Homo sapiens: one gene and its partners. The protein of the gene in region 1 purifies or fractionates together with the protein of each later gene. This does not show direct contact. Each region holds a gene or a part of one and is shown in the gene's direction. Other genes may lie near its edges.

What was found.
Region 2: the proteins of CUL5 (region 1) and ASB13 purify together in Homo sapiens (affinity purification with mass spectrometry; 5 studies listed by BioGRID and IntAct, with this or other methods). This does not show direct contact.
Region 3: the proteins of CUL5 (region 1) and RAB40C purify together in Homo sapiens (affinity purification with mass spectrometry; 6 studies listed by BioGRID and IntAct, with this or other methods). This does not show direct contact.
Region 4: the proteins of CUL5 (region 1) and SPSB4 purify together in Homo sapiens (co-immunoprecipitation; 5 studies listed by BioGRID and IntAct, with this or other methods). This does not show direct contact.

Annotation. Positions count from the first base shown.
Region 1 is NC_000011.10:108,088,428-108,093,070, forward strand, and holds part of CUL5 (cullin-5), read left to right. Parts: intron 1-99; coding exon 100-232; intron 233-1,064; coding exon 1,065-1,196; intron 1,197-4,643. UniProt on the Homo sapiens protein: Core component of multiple cullin-5-RING E3 ubiquitin-protein ligase complexes (ECS complexes, also named CRL5 complexes), which mediate the ubiquitination and subsequent proteasomal degradation of target proteins.
Region 2 is NC_000010.11:5,663,025-5,668,319, reverse strand, and holds the start of ASB13 (ankyrin repeat and SOCS box protein 13), read left to right. Parts: upstream 1-1,724; 5' UTR 1,725-1,768; coding exon 1,769-1,811; intron 1,812-5,295. UniProt on the Homo sapiens protein: May be a substrate-recognition component of a SCF-like ECS (Elongin-Cullin-SOCS-box protein) E3 ubiquitin-protein ligase complex which mediates the ubiquitination and subsequent proteasomal degradation of target proteins.
Region 3 is NC_000016.10:596,194-600,836, forward strand, and holds part of RAB40C (ras-related protein Rab-40C), read left to right. Parts: intron 1-4,643. UniProt on the Homo sapiens protein: RAB40C small GTPase acts as substrate-recognition component of the ECS(RAB40C) E3 ubiquitin ligase complex which mediates the ubiquitination and subsequent proteasomal degradation of target proteins.
Region 4 is NC_000003.12:141,060,975-141,065,617, forward strand, and holds part of SPSB4 (SPRY domain-containing SOCS box protein 4), read left to right. Parts: intron 1-4,643. UniProt on the Homo sapiens protein: Substrate recognition component of a SCF-like ECS (Elongin BC-CUL2/5-SOCS-box protein) E3 ubiquitin-protein ligase complex which mediates the ubiquitination and subsequent proteasomal degradation of target proteins.

The DNA of each region.
Region 1 (4,643 bases):
TTTAACATGAGAAATTCGCTTGTGAATCATTGACTTTAGAAAAAAATAATTGCAAACATTAATCATTTTTCCATCAACTGCTTTTAATTTGTTTTTTAGGGTGGGATTAAAAACTCAGCCTGAATCAAAATGCCCTGAGCTGCTTGCCAATTACTGTGACATGTTGCTAAGAAAAACACCATTAAGCAAAAAACTAACCTCTGAAGAGATTGAAGCAAAGCTTAAAGAAGTGGTACATGAATTTTTTGTATTTCAACTTTTAAAATTACCTTACTTTGAATTTGTGTTTTGCTTATAGGACTTTCTGTGATAGTATCAATTTAAAAATGTATTATCTGTAAAGAACTAATGTTACGAAGATTTGCAGTGCAAGACCTCTCGGGGGGTTATTTTTCTTTCTGAAAATTTTTATTCTACAGCTTCTTGAAAGGAATACCATTTAATTCCTCTCCTTTCTTGGTTATTTTTAGGAATTAAGTTCTAGCTACTAATACAGGACATATCATTCCAACAAATTTGGAATGATAGTTGACAGATTGGGAGTTTTTCACTCCTTCCTTTTTGTGAGAGTCCAAGATAGATAGCAAGGGATGAATGAGAGTAGATTAAGTAGTTGTTTTCATCTTTGTCACCCAGTTGTTAGTGTAATGATGTAAGCCCAGGAATACAAACAAGAAAAAAAATAAGATATTGGGCAAGTGTAGACAGAAAGGCCGAGAGAGATGACTAGTGTCAGAAAAAAAAGTGAAAAAGATAAGTAGAAGAGACACTTTGCAGGGGGACATTGATTTTTTTCATGTAAAGTATATCGTTGCATTTTATACAAAATCTAAAAAACTGATATTTAGACCGACTAACAATTTGGTTATAGTCTCAGTTTTGCTAACCTTTAAAGTAGTGTATCAGGACTGGGTATTTCTCAGAGATGGATAATTCAGTAGGCCTCTATCTGTATATGCTCATAAAAGTTTCTGACTTGTGACAATTGGTGGATATAGAAAGGTCTAAATTCGAGAGATGGTAAGAGTATATAAGAACTGAAAGTAACTTTATTTTTCATACAGCTCTTGGTACTTAAGTATGTACAGAACAAAGATGTTTTTATGAGGTATCATAAAGCTCATTTGACACGACGTCTTATATTAGACATCTCTGCCGATAGTGAAATTGAAGAAAACATGGTAGAGTGGCTAAGAGTAAGTAAATTTTTTTAAATATTTGGTTTTCTAATACATTACATCATTTATATGTGTGCTTAAGTAATACATTTTGGAGATATTGTTAATGTCAAAGAAGTAGGAAACATTTTATAAGAATATAGCGTCAGTTAGGCCGGGCGCACTGGCTCATACCTGTAATCCCAGCACTTTGGGAGGCCGAGGCAGGTGGATCACCTGAAGTCAGGAGTTCAAGACTAGCCTGACCAACATGGCAAAACCGCGTCTCTACTAAAAATACAAAAATTAGCTGGATGTGCTGGTGCACTCCGGTAATTCCAGCTGCTTGGGAGGCTGAGGCAAGAGAATCACTTGAACCCAGGAGGTGGAGGTTGCAGTGAGCCAAGATCGTGCCATTGCACTCCAGCCTGGGTAACAGAGTGGGACTCCATTTCAAAAAAAAAAGAATATACCATCAATTATATAAAATAAAGTGATATCTAATAAATGTTCTTAATACTTTCAGTAAAGTATCTTTGTTCTTGAGTTGTTTCTACTGTTTCACTCCCATTTGTACCTCAACTCTCATTTAAACTGACCTTATTAATAAATAGACTACAGGGGCTGGGCACGGTGGCTCACACCTATAATCCCAGCACTTTGGGAGGCCAAGGCAGGTGGATCACAAGGTCAGGAGATCGAGACCATCCTGGCTAACACAGTGAAACCCAGTCTCTATTAAAAATACAAAAAAATTAACGAGGCGTGGTGGTGGGGGGCCTGTAGTCCCAGCTACTTGGGAGGCTGAGGCAGGAGAATGGCATGAACCCTGGGGGGCGGAGCTTGCAGTGAGCTGAAATCGAGCCACTGAACTCCAGCCTGGGTGACAGAGCAAGACTCCATCTCAAGAAAAATAAAATAAATAAATAGACTGCAGGACAAATTATTATATCTTTAAGGTATTTTCAGTACTAAATGCTTAACTTTAGAGATGTTTATAAATGATAACAATAAATACTTCTGTATAGCAAAAAGAACCTTTAAATGATGGCCTATTTAGGGTAATCAATGCTGATTATAACTAAATTCCCATATAAAGTATTTTGAGTTCTTTTTTTGTTTTAATTATTAAAGTAAATATCTTTAATTTCTGTGTATGTATATAACTCTCTCCACATATATATGGAGAGAGAGAGAGTGCGAGCAAGCACACACGAGAGAGACCTACAGATATTTTAACTTATAGCTAGCCCTTCGCATGGAACTTTAGGATAGTAAAAATTACTGTGCTAACTGAAACTGCTTAGTAGGAAAAAGAATGATTATTCTGTGACTTTTTAAAACTATTGTCAAAAGACTCAAAACTCTTACTGTCACTTATAAGTATATAGGAAAAAGGGGAAAATAGCAAAACTAATACATATTTACTACGAGAAACCTTTAGAATTAAATTTTCTTTCTTTCTTTCTTTTTTTCTTTTTTTTGGAGATGTAGTCTTGCTGTGTTACCCAGGCTGGATTGCAGTGGTGCAATCTTGACTCACTGAAACCTCTGTCTCCCAGATTCAAGCAATTCTCCTGTCTCAGCCTCCTAAGTAGCTGGGACTACAGGTTTGTGCCATGACGCCTGGCTAATTTTTGTATTTTTAGTAGAGACACGGTTTTGCATGTTGGCCAGGCTGGTCTTGAAATCCTGGTCTTAAGTGATCCGCCTGCCTCGGCCTCCCAAAGTACTGAGATTACAGGCGTGAGCCACCACACCCGGCCTATGTTATTTCTTTGTTAAAAAAAAAATATCAAGACCCAACAGTAAAATGACAAACAAGGCTAGGCATGGTGGCTCACACCTGTAATCCCAGCACTTTGGGAGGCTGAGGAGGGCAGATGGCTTGTGCTCAGAGTTTGAGATGAGCCTGGGCAACGTGGTGAAACCCCATCTCTACAAAAATTTAAAAAATTAGCTGGGTGTGATGGCATGCACCTTAGTCCCAGCTGCTTGGGAGGCTGAGGTGGGAGGATCGCCTGAGCCTGTGAGGTGGAGGTTGCATTGAACAGAGATCTTACCACTGTACTCCTGCCTGAGCAACAGAGTCAGATCCTGTCTCTCTCACTCACACACACACACACACACACACACACACACACACACGACAAATAATTAAAAGCAGGCAAAGGATTCGAATTGACATCTCTTCACAGAAGATAGACAGATGGCCAATAAGTGCATGCAAAGATACTCAACATCATTAGTCATTAGTGAAATGCAAGTGAAATGCTCAACATGTTGGCTCCTGCTTATCCCAAATATTTTGAAAGGCTGAGGTGGGAGGATTGCATGAAGCCAGGAGTTAGAAACTACCCTGGGCAAAATAACAATACTCCATGTCTACAAAAAATACAGAAATCAGCTAGGCATGGTGATGTGTGCCTGTGGTTCTAGCTACTCAGGAGGCTGAGATGGGATGATTGCTTGAGCCCAGAAGTTCAAAGTTGTAATGAGCTGAGATTGTGCCACTGCACTGCAGCCTGGGCAACAGAGTGAGACCCTTTCTCAAAAACAAAAAAAACACAAAGAGATACTACTTTATTCCCACTAGGGTAGCTAAAATAAAGACAGATGATAACAAATGCTAGTAAGGAAGAGGAGAAATTGGAACCTTCGTAAGTTGCTAGTGGAGACATAAGATGGTGCAGACACTTTGGAAAACTGTTGGGCAGTTCCTTAAAATGTTGAACGTAGAGCTGACCCAGCAATTTCACTCTTAGGTAATTCATTTGAAGAGAAATGAAAACATGTTTCATGTAAAAACTTGTAAACAAATGTTCATGGCAAGATTACTAATAATAGTCAAAAAGTGGAAACAACCCAAAATGTCAGTGAGCTAATGAATAAAATGTGATTTATCCATACAATGGAATATTTTTTGTGATAAAAAGGAATAAACTAATAATACATGCTGCAATATTAGGTGAACTTTGAAAACATAATGCTGAGTGAAAGAAGCCAATCCCAAAGACCATATCGTATGATTCCACTAATGTGAAGTGTCCAGAATAGGCAAATCCACAAATTCCAGGAGTTGGGGCCAGGAGGGGAAATGACGAGTGACTGTAAATAGTATGGGGTTTCTTTTTGGGGTGATGAAAATGTTCTAAAATTAGATAGTGGTGATGGTTGCACAGTTCTGTAGATATACTAAACTTCATTACACTGTATATTTTATTTTTATTTTTATTTTTTATATTTTTTTGAGACAGAGTCTCACTTTGTTGCCCAGGCTGGAGTGCAGTGGTGCGATCTTGGCTCACTGCAACTTCTGCCACCCAGGTTCAAGCGATTTTCCTGCCTCAGCCTCCTGAGTAGCTGGGATTACAGGCGCATGCCACCATGCCCAGCTAATTTTTGTATTTTTAGCAGAGATGGGTTTCACCATGTTAGCCAGGCTGGTCTTGAACTCCTGACCTCAGGTGATCCACCCGCCTCAGC
Region 2 (5,295 bases), on another chromosome or scaffold:
TCTGGCTCTTGCTGGGGAAATACATTCTAAATATTGAAGAAAAAGGAAATACTTTCAGGGAATGCATTTCTGAATATATATGTAAACTTTGCAAAGCTTTTTCTGTAATGAAATCTTTTAATATTTTGGTCAAGCAACAGAATGGAGGAAAAACAAATAATAAGCAAATACTTGCTTATTAATATGTTTAGGAAACACTTGGATAACACACATACACATATGAATATATACACACACACATATATATATATGTTCTACATGATCATACTAAAATTTAGATGACACTTCGTCCAGGAAGAAATATTGAAGAAAATGCAATCATACAAACACGACATTGCCACAGGGGAAAACATAACATCCATGGTAAATATAACGATACAAAAATCTGTTACATTTAGTAAAAAGTGCAGAAAACCGGCAAGAAAAATGCAGGAGCCTGATTTTGGTAGAAAGTGGCAAAAAGGCTCTAAATGCCCAGTGCAAATGGCTTGAAATTCCATTCCCAGGCCTGGGGCTCCACATTTCCAGGGGCTCTGCTTTCCAAAAGATATGGTTCAATGTCCCCTAGGTATAGTGCCTTCGGTCTGGACTGCAGATGGAGACCTGGGTCATCCCAGAAGCTTTGTAGTGTGAGAGATCAAACTGGCTGCTCTGCCAGGCCTCACCTATTTCCAGACTGGATGATTCCTGATACTTTTACTTTTGAGCCCAAACTAACTTCTGCATGGAGGTTCAGTACAGGTCAGGTGAGTGACGAATCTCCTGACAGGGCTACAGTGAACTTTCACAAGGTTAAACCTTCTAAACTTGGGAAGCTGCTTTGCAAAAATAAATAAATAAAATAAAAATCCCTTACTCAATTGTTGACTGGGTATTATTCCGGAAACAGGAAACAGGTTTTTCATTTCTGCCAGGTTGTGCCCCAGCTTCCATTTGCTAAGCAGCTTAGGGGAACATTGGATTAAAAACCACCCGTAAAGAAAAGGCATTAAGAAATTGATTTGAACGATTTGAAATTATTATCTTGAAAGATCAAAGAAACAGTGATTATGAACACCGGCTCTGGTGGGAAGCGGTTCTTGAAAGTTAAAGCATGGGGGAACTCGAGTACTCTGGAGCATCATCAGCATCTGTACAATGCAAGTGAACTCTGGAAGCTAGACGCATGCTTTGCACGTGGACACAGACACATGCTTGCACAGGACACATTTGCAATACATACATGTTTATACATGGACACATGTTTTGCACACGCTTGCACAGGACACGCTTGCACAGGACACATGCACAGGATGCATGTTTTGTACAGGACACATGTTTTGCACATGGAAACACATATCCATGCTTTGCAAAGGGACACAGGGAAGCATGCTTACAATGGATACAAGTTTACACACGGACGCATGTTTTGCACAGGACATATGCACAGGATGCATGTTTTGCACACGGACACACACGTTTACATAGGACAAGTGCACAGGACACGTTTTGCACCGGACGTATTCTGTGCACGGGACGCACGGTTTGCAGATGCAAGCACACACACTCCTCGGCGCGACGGGCGAAGCGGGGTGGGCAGCGACAGCGGAGTCCGGACCCAGGGACAGCGCCTCCGGGAACCTCGCCAAGGCGGCGGGAACTACAACTCCCGGCTCGGTCGCCTCGGGACGACGCGCGGCCCAGCGCAGACTGGCCCCGCCCAGCGGCCCCGCGCGGCCCGGCCCAGGTCCCGGCGCCCAGAGTCGCCGCGCGGCCGCCGGTGAGCCGCATGGAGCCCCGGGCGGCGGACGGCTGCTTCCTGGGCGACGTGGGTACGTGCGGGCGCCGCGGAGGTCAGAGCGAGGCAGCGGCGCCGGCTCCTGAGGCCGGCCGCGTATCCGATGGCCTGCGCCGGGGAGGTGGTGGCGCGCCCCGCGCTGGCTCCGTGGGCGGGGGCGTTTGGCGGGGTGGGCCGCGGTGAAAGCAGGGTCCCAGTGGTGCCGCGCATCCCAGACGGGCTCTCATGTCTGGTGCCTTGTCCCAGGCCAGCGCACTGCGGGGTTGCAGTCCGTGCGGCTCGCCAGGTGTGGGGTTTCGCAACCGCAAACCCACCGAGCGCCGCGCGCCCTGGGGAAGGTGCGGGACGCGTGCGGGGCCGTTGCCCAGTGGCGGGGGAGAGCCTGGGAAACGCCCACGGTGCTCCCTCTCGGGGAAGCCAGGCGCGAGCCCACGGTAAGAGCTAAACCCCCCTCCACTGGCGCGGGTGAGGCCGTGGCGCAGTGTCCGAGCATCCTGCAGAGGCGTCCGCGTGACCCCGACTCCGCTCCAGTGAAGGTGGCCTTGGGGCACCCCGGCACACTCCGAAAAGTGCCATCCCAGTTCGCAGCCTACTTTACCAAAATCCGAGCAGCCCAAGAATGAAATGGATTTGAGGGAAGGACACTCTTTGGGGAAGCAAATTTTTTTGCTGCCTATGAAGCAATAATATGGTCACTGAAATGAGCGACGGAAGCACTATGAAAGCCTAAAAAGAAAAAAAAAATCTAAAGCATATTCATCCTGGTAAAAACAGTAGTGCACCTAAGAGGGAAAAGTCTTAAGGGTAAATTTAGCTGAAGAGGAAGTTGCAGTCATAGCAAGGCAAAGATATTTTAATTGACTTTGCAAAATAACCACCTTTGACATGATCAAAGGTATCTAATAAGCATGTGTTTTTACTTGGCATTCCAGTCCAGGCAAGCACAAGACTTTGACCCTGACACTGTGATCTGCATTTGATTAGCTTAATTGAGTAAGCAGTGAATAGCTAACGGCAGAAGCTTATTTAAACACATATTTTAATATTTCTGTTCATGGCATCACTTCTGAGCATGTCTTCTGCATCGTTTGTTATGGAATGCATCTGTAGAAGAAAGGCACATTTTAAACTAATGAATCCGCAACTTTTGAGGTTCACTGGTATTTTTGACATTGTCATTTTTTATTTAATATATTTCTCCCCAAATAAGTTCTGCTGATGTTTTTTATTCCCAGTGTAATGAATAAGCTGAATGTGTTGGATCCAAAACAATACTGCCATTCCAGCAGCACCAGAGGCGAACCGTAGGAGCTTTAGACAATTTTAACATTCTGACCTCAAATTCTGGATGTGTGGTGTACCGCGACCAAAACATTTAGGTTTTGGGCTGTTGCGCAGTCTCTCATGCCTGTAATGCCAGCACTTTGGGAGGCCGAGGCAGGTGGATCACTTGAAGTCAGGAGTTCGAGACCAGCCTGGCCAACATGGCGAAACCCCGTCTCTACTAAAAATACAAAAATTAGCCGAGCATTGTGGCGGGTGCCTGTAGTTCCAGCTACTTGGGAGACTGAGGCAGAAGAATCACTCGAACCTGGAAGGCAGAGGTTGCAGTAAGCCGAGATTGGGCCATTGCACTCCAGCCTGGGTGACAAGAGCAAAACTCTGTCTCAAAATAAATAAATAAAAATACAAAAATTAGCCAAGCATAGTGGCGGGCACCTGTAATCTCAGCTACTGGGGAGGCTGAGGCAGGAGAATCACTTGAACCTGATAGGCAGAGGTTGTAGTGAGCTGAGATCATGCCATTGCACTCCAGCCTGGGCGACAGAGTGAGACTCCGTCTCAAAAATAAATAAAATAAATAAATAAAGAAATAAAGAAATTCTGCATTCCCTATGGACGTCCTTCTGTGGTAGATGAACCTCTAACCTACTGGCTGCTCCCCCACTCCCCCGTACGTTCCCCCCAGGGTCCTCCAGTAGAATTGTTTTTGTTTAAATCAGATTTCAGTGTTGACATTATTGTGACTGTGAATATTGCAGCTGAGCCACTTGCTATGTGGGGACTATGTTTCTCTTTTTGTGTAATGTCTTGCTTTTCTTGGACATGGCGGGTGTTCTTTTTGTTTACCTGTGGGTTCGGTGTTCTCCATGCCTAATCCCTAATTTATCCCCAGACAGTCTTCTTAGGCCCCTCAGGTAAGCAATGAGTCCTGTGTTCTCTCTCTCCTGGTTCAGTGTTTGGAGACGTGTGCCCTGCAGCCTTGGGTCTTCCAGCTCTGCCTGCTGCTGCTCTGGGAAGCCGGGGTGGGGGTGGGGCAGGGGTGTCTTCCTGTTGTTTATGGGGATTTGCGCATCCCTTTGCGTTCAGTGCCCTCCCAGGGGTAGTTCAGATTCCCTGCTCTTTGCTGGTCCCAACCCCGGGTGCCAAGCCCGCCTTCTGTATCCTGGTTAGCCACTGCACCAGCCTGCTCTCCAGCTCCCCCGATGGTCTGGAAATCACTCCCCAGCCTGTTTGTTTTCTACTTGTTTATATGGATTTATGTCTCCCCATCCAGGTACTCTCAGTTGAGTGAGATCTTTGCTGAGGGGCAGAGAAGATCCTCCGTGTTTAATCAGAAACACAGCTCTATCGCTCTTGATTTCAGTGTCAGAGCGGGGAGAGGGAGAATCCACTAGGGTAGCAGTCCAGGGCATTTCTAAAGGGTAGAGAGTTACTTGGAGTGGGCGGCTATTTTATCCTAAAATAGGAATTCAAAGAGGGCCTGTTGACACACCAGAAAAGCCTATTTAGGGCCAATGGAAGTATCAGAGGAAATTAGCAAGTTACAAAGGCTTAGGAAGCATGTTTATGGGCAAAACAGTACCTCTATCCTCCTCCTCGACTCGGCAGCCCTGGGAGACATTGCCTGCTGTCCTAAGGAAACTGAGGCTTAGGTGATTTAGGGTGAAAAGCGTCCCTCAGGTCCCTTAACTGAGACAGGGAGGATGCAGGATCAGAGCTCAGGGGTCCTGAGTCAGGGCCTGAGCTCCCACAGTGCCTTGAGGGTGGGACTGGGGGACCCTCCCCATGCTCCCTGGGCCATAGCCTTTGGGGTGGACCAGGGGCAAGGGAGGAGTCGGGGTAGCAGATAATTGGGTGAGTGATGAGGGAGTCAGGGGAGGAGACATTGAAGGATAATGCAGCGAATCCAGTGTGGTTTTAGCGTCCTGCAGGTGGAAGGAAATGCCTGTTATTCACCAAGCTCTCCTGACACCTTCGGTCCTTTCTCCCAGTTCCTTTACTCCTTAGCCCACCTATTTTCACCTCTTTTCTCCTTGTCTTCTGCTTTCATTTATTCTTTCCCTTTCTTTTCTCCACTCTTACTGAGTTTTGACCATTTTGTCCCTCTAAGAAGGCAAATACTGGCATTTTTGCTTCATTGAACACATCTTAAAATCAGTCTGCTGTTTGACCTCAAGTTTACCGACAAACTATATTTTGGGGATTCATAATGAAAACATTTAAAAAGACATGGT
Region 3 (4,643 bases), on another chromosome or scaffold:
TGAGCTAAATTGAACAGTGTTTCAGGAAGGAAGCCACATCGGGGAGCTGAGAGGTGGGCGGGAAGGACACAAGGGAGGGATCTGGGTCCTCGCAGGTACTTTTGCCTCTTGTTCTATTTGAAGATTGCAGCTGAGAAGGCGCGAAGCTGCTGGTCCCTGAAAAGCTGCCGCCTACCCTGGTCTGGAGCCCCTGCGAGCTGGCGTAGAGCAGGAAGGGGTTGCATCACAGCTGAGTCCTCCCCTGCGCAGCACATGGTACGATGCCACCCCACCGAGGGCCGTTCTGGGGCCCAGGGGCCACGTCAGCCAGGGTGTCATCCGCCGGGCGTTTGGAGTAAGCAGGGAAAGGTGTCGGCGTCCAGCATCCTGGTGCGGAGAACGCTGCCGAACCACTGTGAGAAGGCGGGGAGACTGCTTGTCAGGCTGAGCTGACTTCCTGGGCGGTCGGGAGAAGGATGTGCAGACTGTGGAACTGGCGGGTGTCAGGGACCAGAAGTTACGAAGGCGGTGGGAAGAGGAGCAGCTGTGGGAAGAAGGACTGGCTGCCAAGACCATGGGCTGTGGGCATCCTCAGGGCAGGAGCTGGGTGGAAGAGGGGCCTCTTCAGTCCTCTTGGCAGTGAAGGTAAACAGATGTCAGCAGGGTGGACTCGCACTTTGAGCCTAAGGTAGCGAGGAGGCTTCTGAGCCGACCTGGGGATGGCGGCGCACTCTGATACAGGCAGTGCGCGGCTGTCTCGTGCTGAGATCAGGATTTTGAGTAAAGCAGAGATTTCTGGACGTTTGTCCTTCAGAAATTAGCGGAGGGACAAGGGCATTGGCGCTGTGGAGAGGTAGGGACCCATGGGTATGGGGCGGAAGACCAGGGCACGACCAGACACCGCCAGGGTGCTGCACATGTAGGTAGCAGGGGGAGGTGGTCCAGGCAAGATGGGATGGGAGGGGCTCAGGAGCAGCCAGGTTCTAGTGCTGGTGATGAGGTGGGTGGTGGCAGGGGCATGTGGAAGGGTCTTCTGACCATGGCTTACAGAGGGCTTGGTGCTGGGGGGCCTGGAGTTGTGGAAAGGGTGAAGGGAAGAGTTGGTCCCATATTCCCAGATGGCAGAGTGGAAACAGAAGCACTCGGCCCCTGAGCAGCCTTCGCCGTCTTTACAGTGAACACAGTCCTCAAACCAAACTGGGAAGGATTCGAATCCTGGATGGGTGATGTGGTCCTGGCTGTGTAAACTGACCCTGATGAAAGACATGCCCATCCTGTGAGAGGGACAGCCATCTAGCATCTTTTTTTTTTTTTTAATTTTTATTTTTTGAGACAGAGTCTTGCTCCGTTACCCAGGGTGTAGTTCGATGGCACTATCTTGGCTCGCTGCAACCTCTTGAGCCTCATGGGTTCAAGCGATTCTCCTGCCTTGGCCTCCTGAGTAGCTGGGATTACAGGCATGCACCACCACACCTGGCTAATTTTTTACATTTTTAGTAGAGACAGAGGTTTTGCTGTGTTGGCCAGGCTGGTCTTGAACTTCTGACTTCAAGCAATCCGCCCGCCTCAGCTTCCCAAAGTTGGTGGAATTACAGGCATGAGCCACTGTGCCCAGCCCAGCTCAGCATCTTTGGAAAAGAGCAGAGGGCTGGGCACGGTGGCTCACACCTGCAATCTCAGCACCTTGGGAGGCCGAGGTAGGCGGAGTGCTGGAGCCCAGGAGTTTGAGGCCAGCCTGGGCAACACAGTGAGACCCCATCTCTACAAAAAAAAAAAAAAAAAAAAAAAAAAAGGCCGGGTGCAGTGGCTCACACCTGTAATTCCAGCACTTTGGGAGGCCAAGGTGGGTGAATCACGAGGTCAAGAGATTGAGACCATCCTGGCCAACATGATGAAACCCCGTCTCTACTAAAAATACAAAAATTGGCCAGGCATGGTGGCTCACGCTTGTAATCCCAGCACTTTGGGAGGCCAAGGCAGGTGGATCACGAGGTCAGGAGATCAAGACCATCCTGGCTAACATGGTGAAACCCTGTCTCTATAAAAATACAAAAAATTAGCTGGGCATGGTGGCGGGCACCTGTAGTCCCAGCTACTTGGGAGGCTGAGGTACGAGAATGGCGTGAATCCAGGAGGCAGAGCTTGCAGTGAGCCGAGATCACGCCACTGACTCCAGCCTGGGTGACAGAGCGAGACTCCACCTCAAAAAAAAAAAAAAATACAAATACAAATACAAAAATTAGCCGGGCGTGGTGGCGCATACCTGTAGCCCCAACTACTTGGGAGGCTGAGGCAGGAGAATTGCTTGAACCTGGGTGGCGGAGGTTGCAGAGAGCTGAGATTGTGCCACTGCACTCCAGCTTGGTGACAGAGCGAGACTCTGTCTCACAAAAAAAAAAAAAAAAAAAGAAAAAAGAAAATTAGCTGGGTGTGGTGGTGCACGTCTGTAGTCCCAATTACTTGGGAGGCTGAGGTGGGAAACTCACTGGAGCCTGGGAGGTGGTGGCTGCAGTGAGTCTGACTGTTGCACTACGTTCCAGCCTGGGTGACAGAGTGAGACCCTGTCTCAAAAAATAAAAAATAAAGAAAAGAGGATGGAAGAAGAGAAGAGCTGAGTCCTGGAAATGGGCAGGTACTTTACAGTTTGTACAGCGGCCGGATGTAAGAACCTCATGTCAACCCTGAGTGAAGGTGTAGGCCGGGCGGTCAAGCACAGCACTCTCCAGCAGCTCCAGCAGCGTGGGTAACCCGGTGGGAGCCTGTGTGCTGCTTTCCCTGCCCGGGGCCGGCGGCTGCTGCTGGGCTTTCGCCTGACTTCCTGGTCAGCAACGTTGTCGGCCACCTGGGCACAGCAGGTACAGCCTGTGTGTCAGACCTAGCTGGGAGGGGCGGTAATAGGGTAGATGACATCAGGATTCAGGACTCTGAACACAAACACAGTGACACTGATCAGGGTTGCCGAGGTGCTGTGTTTCGGTCCAGAAAGTCACTGCTGCAGGGGAGGGGAGTATGGTCACAGCCCAGGCCCCGGCCCCGGCCGAAGCTGCCACTGACAGGAGACCCTTCTCTGCCTGTGCCACCAGCTTTGCTCCGAGGGGTGTCTGTGTCCTCAGGCTCTGCCAAGGCAGTGTCAGGCTGATGCCTGCCCGTGTCGGCCGGCCACAGCCCTAGTGGCTGCCCGCAGAGTCTTGCGCCCACCTGATTCCTGCCTGAGAGGAGCCGCCAGGTCAGCTGATGCCAGCAGGACCCACTTCACCAGGTCAGCAAGGAGGAGGCAGCTTCCCTTGGGGCCACGCCGTGCCTCCTCCGTGTGCGCTGCTGCCATGGCTGCTTCTGTCGATAGGCATGTACGTGAAAATGCACACCCGTGGGTGTTCGCTACTGTCAGCGTGGATTCAGCAAGGTTTTGTTCCCTCGTGGCATCAGTCAGCGTGGATTCAGCAAGGTTTTGTTACCTCGTGGCATTAATCAGCGTGGATTCAGCAAGGTTTTGTTCCCTTGTGGCATCAGTCAGCGTGGATTCGCAAGGTTTTGTTCCCTCGTGGCATCAGTCAGCGTGGATTCGCAAGGTTTTGTTCCCTCGTGGCATCAGTCAGCGTGGATTCGCAAGGTTTTGTTCCCTCGTGGCATCAGTCAGCGTGGATTCGCAAGGTTTTGTTCCCTCGTGGCATCAGTCAGCGTGGATTCGCAAGGTTTTGTTCCCTCGTGGCATCAGTCAGCGTGGATTCGCAAGGTTTTGTTCCCTCGTGGCATCAGTCAGCGTGGATTCGCAAGGTTTTGTTCCCTCGTGGCATCAGTCAGCGTGGATTCGCAAGGTTTTGTTCCCTCGTGGCATCAGTCAGCGTGGATTCGCAAGGTTTTGTTCCCTCGTGGCATCAGTCAGCGTGGATTTGCAAAGTTTTGTTCCCTTGTGGCATCATACTCCTTTCCTGTTTGGTTTGGGACTCCCATGGCCCCCTTGATGTTGGAGCCTCTTCAGGTGGCACCTGCGTCCTGGGCTATGCCCTGAGTTCCCGGAGCTCCCTGTGTCCTGGAACAGTCTGTACTTCCAGCAGATGTGGGTCCTGCCTGCCCTGGAAACGGCCATCTCTCTGAAGAGCCTGTGTCCTCCTGGTGGGGAGGGATAGCTAGTATGTCAGCTTCTTAAATTACTTTATTAAAAATTGAGTATATGCAAAATAGTAGTCATAATAATAGTAATAGTAGCAAGTGCAAAGTGTAAGTAATAGAAATGGATGTCACCTAACCTGCCGAGTTTAAAACATTGTTGTTGGACTTTTTTAAAGAGCTTTGGTGCCGGATGGGCACGGTGGCTCACGCCTGTGATCCCAGCACTTTGGGAGGCCGAGGCGGGCGGATCACAAGGTCAAGAGATCAAGACCGTTCTGACCAACATGGTGAAACCCCGTCTCTACTAAAAATTCAAAAATTAGCTTGGCCTGGTGGCATGCACCTGTATTCCCAGCTACTCAGCAGGCTGAGGCAGGAGAATCGCTTGAACCTGGGGAGGCGGAGGTTGCAGTGAGCCGAGTTTGCACCACTACACTCCAGCCTGGGCGACAGAGTGAGACTCCATCTCAAAAAAATAAAAATAAGAGCTTTGGTGCCTACGTGCGTCACACAGACAGTTTAACACATAATTCATTATCAGCAAGCGGTGACTG
Region 4 (4,643 bases), on another chromosome or scaffold:
GGTAATTTGTGTTGCAAATTTTTTCTTATGTTAAAACAAGTCTAACTTCTTTTACAAGTGCTTTCAGCTACACCGTTTTGTTATTTCCCATTTTCATTTCTTGTTTTACATATTTCTGTCTTCTCCCCCATTAAATGATTATATGGTTTATGTTTTATGTGTTTTTAAAAATTTAGTTACTTATGCATTTAAAGTATATTTAGTGATATGTGAAAATGCAAATTACATAATTTTTAGGTGAAATAATCTAAATAAAGGCCCATTATACCAATTTTTAAAAAGAAAATTCATTATAATTTATAGACCAAAAAAAAAGAGAGAATAAAGCAAAATTCCTCCAAAAGCTGACAATGTTTATATCTGGTTAATGAGATAGGAGAAAGAGGTGAATTCTAGTTTTTGTCCTTTTTTTGTATTCTCTAAAATTTAGACATTTATTTAACCTTTTCTAATTAATGAGCTTTATTTCTTCAGAATAGTTTTAGATTTAAAGAAAAACTAAACAGATAGTACAGAGAGGTCCCATATGCTCACTCCATTTATCACCCTAGTTTCCCCAATTATTAGCATCTTACATTAGTATGGCACATTTATCACAACTAATGAACCAGTATTGATACATTATTATTAACTTATTTTAATAATTAATATTAATAATTGTTATTAACATATTTTTTCAGATTTCCTTTTTTTCTCAGATTTCAGTTTTTACCTAATATCCTTTTTCTTCTCTTTCTTTCTTTTTCTTTCCTTTTCTTTCTTTCTTTTTTTTTTTTTTTGAGATGGAGTCTCCCTCTGTCACCCAAGCTGGAGTGCAGTGGCACGATCTTGGCTTACTGCAACCTCCACCTCCTGGGTTAAAGCAGTCCTCCCACCTCAGCCTCCAAAGTAGCTGGGACTACAGGCGTGTGCCGCCACACCTGGCTAATTTTATTTTTTTAGTAGAGACAGCATTTCACCATGTTGGCCAGGCTAGTCTTGAACTCTTGACCTCAAATGATCCACCTGCCTTGGCCTCCCAAAGTTCTGGGATTACAGGTGTGAGCCACCAAGCCCAGCCCCTAATATCCTTTTTCTGTTCCAGATCCCATCCAGGATACCACATTATGTGGAATTGTTAGGTCTCCTTAGGGCCCTCTTCACTATGATGGTTTCTCAGACTTTGGTTCCGATGACCTTGCCGGTTAGGTCAGGTATTTTGTGGGATGGCCTCCAGATGGAATTTGTCCTTTGTTTTTCTCATGATTAGAGTGAGGTTATGGGTTTTGGGGAAGACACCCAAAGGAAGATTTCATTATATCATATCAAGGGTACACACTATCAACATGATAGATTAATATAATAGTAATATAATAATATAACATAATATAATATGATACATTACATGATTAGCTTTAATAGTTTATATGTTTTATTGATTTTGTTTTGTTTTTGTGGTAGTTTTTCCCAAAGAACCATCTCTTTAGTTTTTGCTTAGTTCTATTATTTCCCTATTTTATTATGCTCCATTCATTTTTTAAAATTTAATAGCATAAATATATCAGCCATGATTTCCTCTGAGAACTGCTGTAGAGGCACCCCGCAGGTTCTAGTATGTGGAATGCTTTTTGTTATTGTTGTATTCCAGATATTCTGCAATTTCTATATGGATTTCTTTTTTGATCTGAGTTGGGGTCAAGTTGTTTAAAGAATTTTTTAAAATGCCTAAGTGATAGGATTTTGTGATCTATAATTTTGTGATTAATTTCTAGTTTTCCTTCTGTGTTATCAGATACTGTATTATTTTTGCTTTTTTTGAAGTTTTGTTTGTGACCTAATATACAGGAAAATTTTTTTGATCATTCCATGAACACTTGAAAAGAACATGCATTCTTTGTTTTCAAGGTATAGAATTTGATGAACACATTAGTTAGATCTGTCTTATTAATTATGTAATTTGGTTTTTCTATGTCTTTACTTAATTTTGGTCCACTGGTCCATCATGAGCTAGAAGAGGGAAATTAAAATTACATGCCTCTGATGTGTGTCTGTCTAAGGCCCCTCCTTATATTTCCTCTAGCTTTTGCTCTGAATTTTGGTGCTATTTGGTGAGTTCGGTCTTCAATTGTGGATCGCATTCTTTATTATTATTAAGTATTCTTGTCTCACTTAAAACCTTTTGTCCTGAAATCAACTTTACTTGCCTAATATTAAGATTACAGTGCCTGCTTAGTTTGAGTTCACACTTCCCTGTTATGTGTTTGCCCTTCCTTTATTTTCAAAATTGTTAAATCACTTTGCTTTGGGGAATGTCTCTTATATGTAGCATATGGTTGGGGGTTTTGTGTTTTTCCCCAGTCTTATAATCTTTTTTTAGCAGTTTACTATGGCCATTTAATGACATGGTCAATATTTCGGTCTTAGTTTTACTATCATATTTCATGCTTTTATGCCTTTTTGCCTCTCTTGCTTTCTAACAAAATCTTTCAGTATATGATCTGTTTTATTTTGTATTATGTTCAAGGTTTGTATCTGCAAGATGTGTATTTTTATTTTTAGTTCTGGAGGTTACCTTTATAACTAGCCAAAATGGATTTAATCTTTTGTTGAGACCATGCTAGGTGTCTCCCTTCTGAAATAATCAATCACAAAATTAGTTTACAAATTTGGTTCCCATTTTTATCTGCTTTGTGGCAGCTTTTTTCAGGTGAGTTTGCTTGGTTTGCCATGTTTTGTCCTGTTCGTTTATTCCTTTCTTTCTTCTATAGCATCTTTGACTATATCCTGTGCTGGTTCCTCTTTGAAAGAGGTAAACCTTCTTGGATCAGCATTTTGCAGGAGACACATGTGGAGGAGGTACCAAGAAGAGGGCAGGATTGCTCCCTGGTTCCCAGGAACTTTGTTCACAGGGTTGTTGTAGTGACTTCCTTTAGTCTTTGCTTCTACTCTGTCAGCAGAGTTCTGCAGCTGTGGGCTTCTCCCAATTCAGAGCCCTCCTCTCACTCTGCCTTGCCAACACACTGCTTCCTGTGAAGATGGCGGGTCTGTGGTTTCCTCTGTTGGCCCTGCCCTCCTCTTCCCCCAGGGTGTAGGAGGCAGCTCCCACTACCAGACCACATGCCCTGTTCCCATTTTTTCTGATAAGGGATCATTAGTTTTTTCCTTCAGGGAATGCCAGCTCCTGGCTGGCTCTGCCAGCTTTGTCTGAGATCTGCCACCACAGGTGTCTTCTCTAGGTGTTTTCTCACAGTATTTTTGATCTTCACTGCTTTTGGTAGCCCTTACCTGTTTTGGGCAGCCTTTCCTTATAAGCTGTGTTTCAGGTTATAAATGTGTTCTAGTTTGCTGAAGAAGGAGTTTGCATTTCTTTTTTTCTCCTGGATTTTGGGTGATTTCGGATATGAAAAGGAGTAACTTTATTCTGCTATCTTAAAACTGCCTAGTGTTGCAAATTGTTATGTGTTCTGGTATTCCCTCAGATTGAACATTAGCCAGAGCTCTCGGAATAGGGTCAACATCTGCTGAAGCTGGGATCTGACAATAGAGAGGGAAGAGTATGAGAGTTAAGAATAAAATGGAATGGTGAAAAACCCACAGGATACTTGTCTGTGCTGTGTGGCAGCAGAGTTCTTTTCGTCCCTACCTGGACTTTGGCTAGGGGTGTACCACTGTCTGGGTGGGAGGTTGAGGCTGGGGAGGGCAGGGCATGAAAAACACCCATCCATCTCCTCATCTGGCTCAGGAGAAGTTGTTCTAGGCCCAGCAGCTCTCAGGCCAGGGAGGGGAGGGCACACGCCTCTGCTCTGGACAGGGCTTGGCTCTCCATCTCTCTCCATACCCAGGGCCCGTCCAAGTAGTCCGAGCTCCTTGGGTTCTGTCTGGTTTCCTAGTGATGGTGGCCAATTCCTTCTCCATGAAAACCAGGATCCTGTCTCAGGGAAGGCAGTCTGGGGTCAGTGCTGTTAATGGTATTTACCTGATCGAACAAAGAGCTCACCCATCCAAAGGGAGGGGATCCACATGGGATGCCCAGAGAACAGAGCCAGAGAGGAAAACCTGTCGGCAGAGTTCCAGGACCCTTTATATTATGGTCTCTCAAGTTCCCCCATCACCAGAGGGAGGTGTTTTATCCTCATGTTTTTTACTGGCAAGAAATCTGGAGTATCCAAGAGGCTAGGAGGCTTTCCTGTGGACCCACAGTAGGAGATGGAGAGAGGGATTTGGACGCAGTTCTGTCTGGCTCCAGAGCCTGGACACCGGCTCCCTTATCCTTCCTCCTCACCTCTATTGACCTCCATTCACCTTCCCATGGAGCTCTCACCCCATCTTCCCACGCTGCCTGATGTCCATGTCCCTGGTGACCCTGCTGCACCTTGTTCTGTGTCTTGCCGCTCAAGCCTGGCTACATTTTAGGAGGTTATTTAGGCTCCCCAGGACTCCAGGGTTGGGAACCAATGGGCCACACCCTACAGCCCTGTGTCTTGAGCAGCTGTGTGCCCCCCAGCCTTGGCACAAGGCTTGTCCCCTGGGATCAAAAGCACCTGGGTTCTCATCCAGGCTCTGACCTTGAGCAAGTCACAACTGCTCTGGGCTCACGCCTTATTTCTAAAATCAGACTCCCTATGATTGTTCTAGGTCCGGAACACAGACCCTGAAGCCAGATG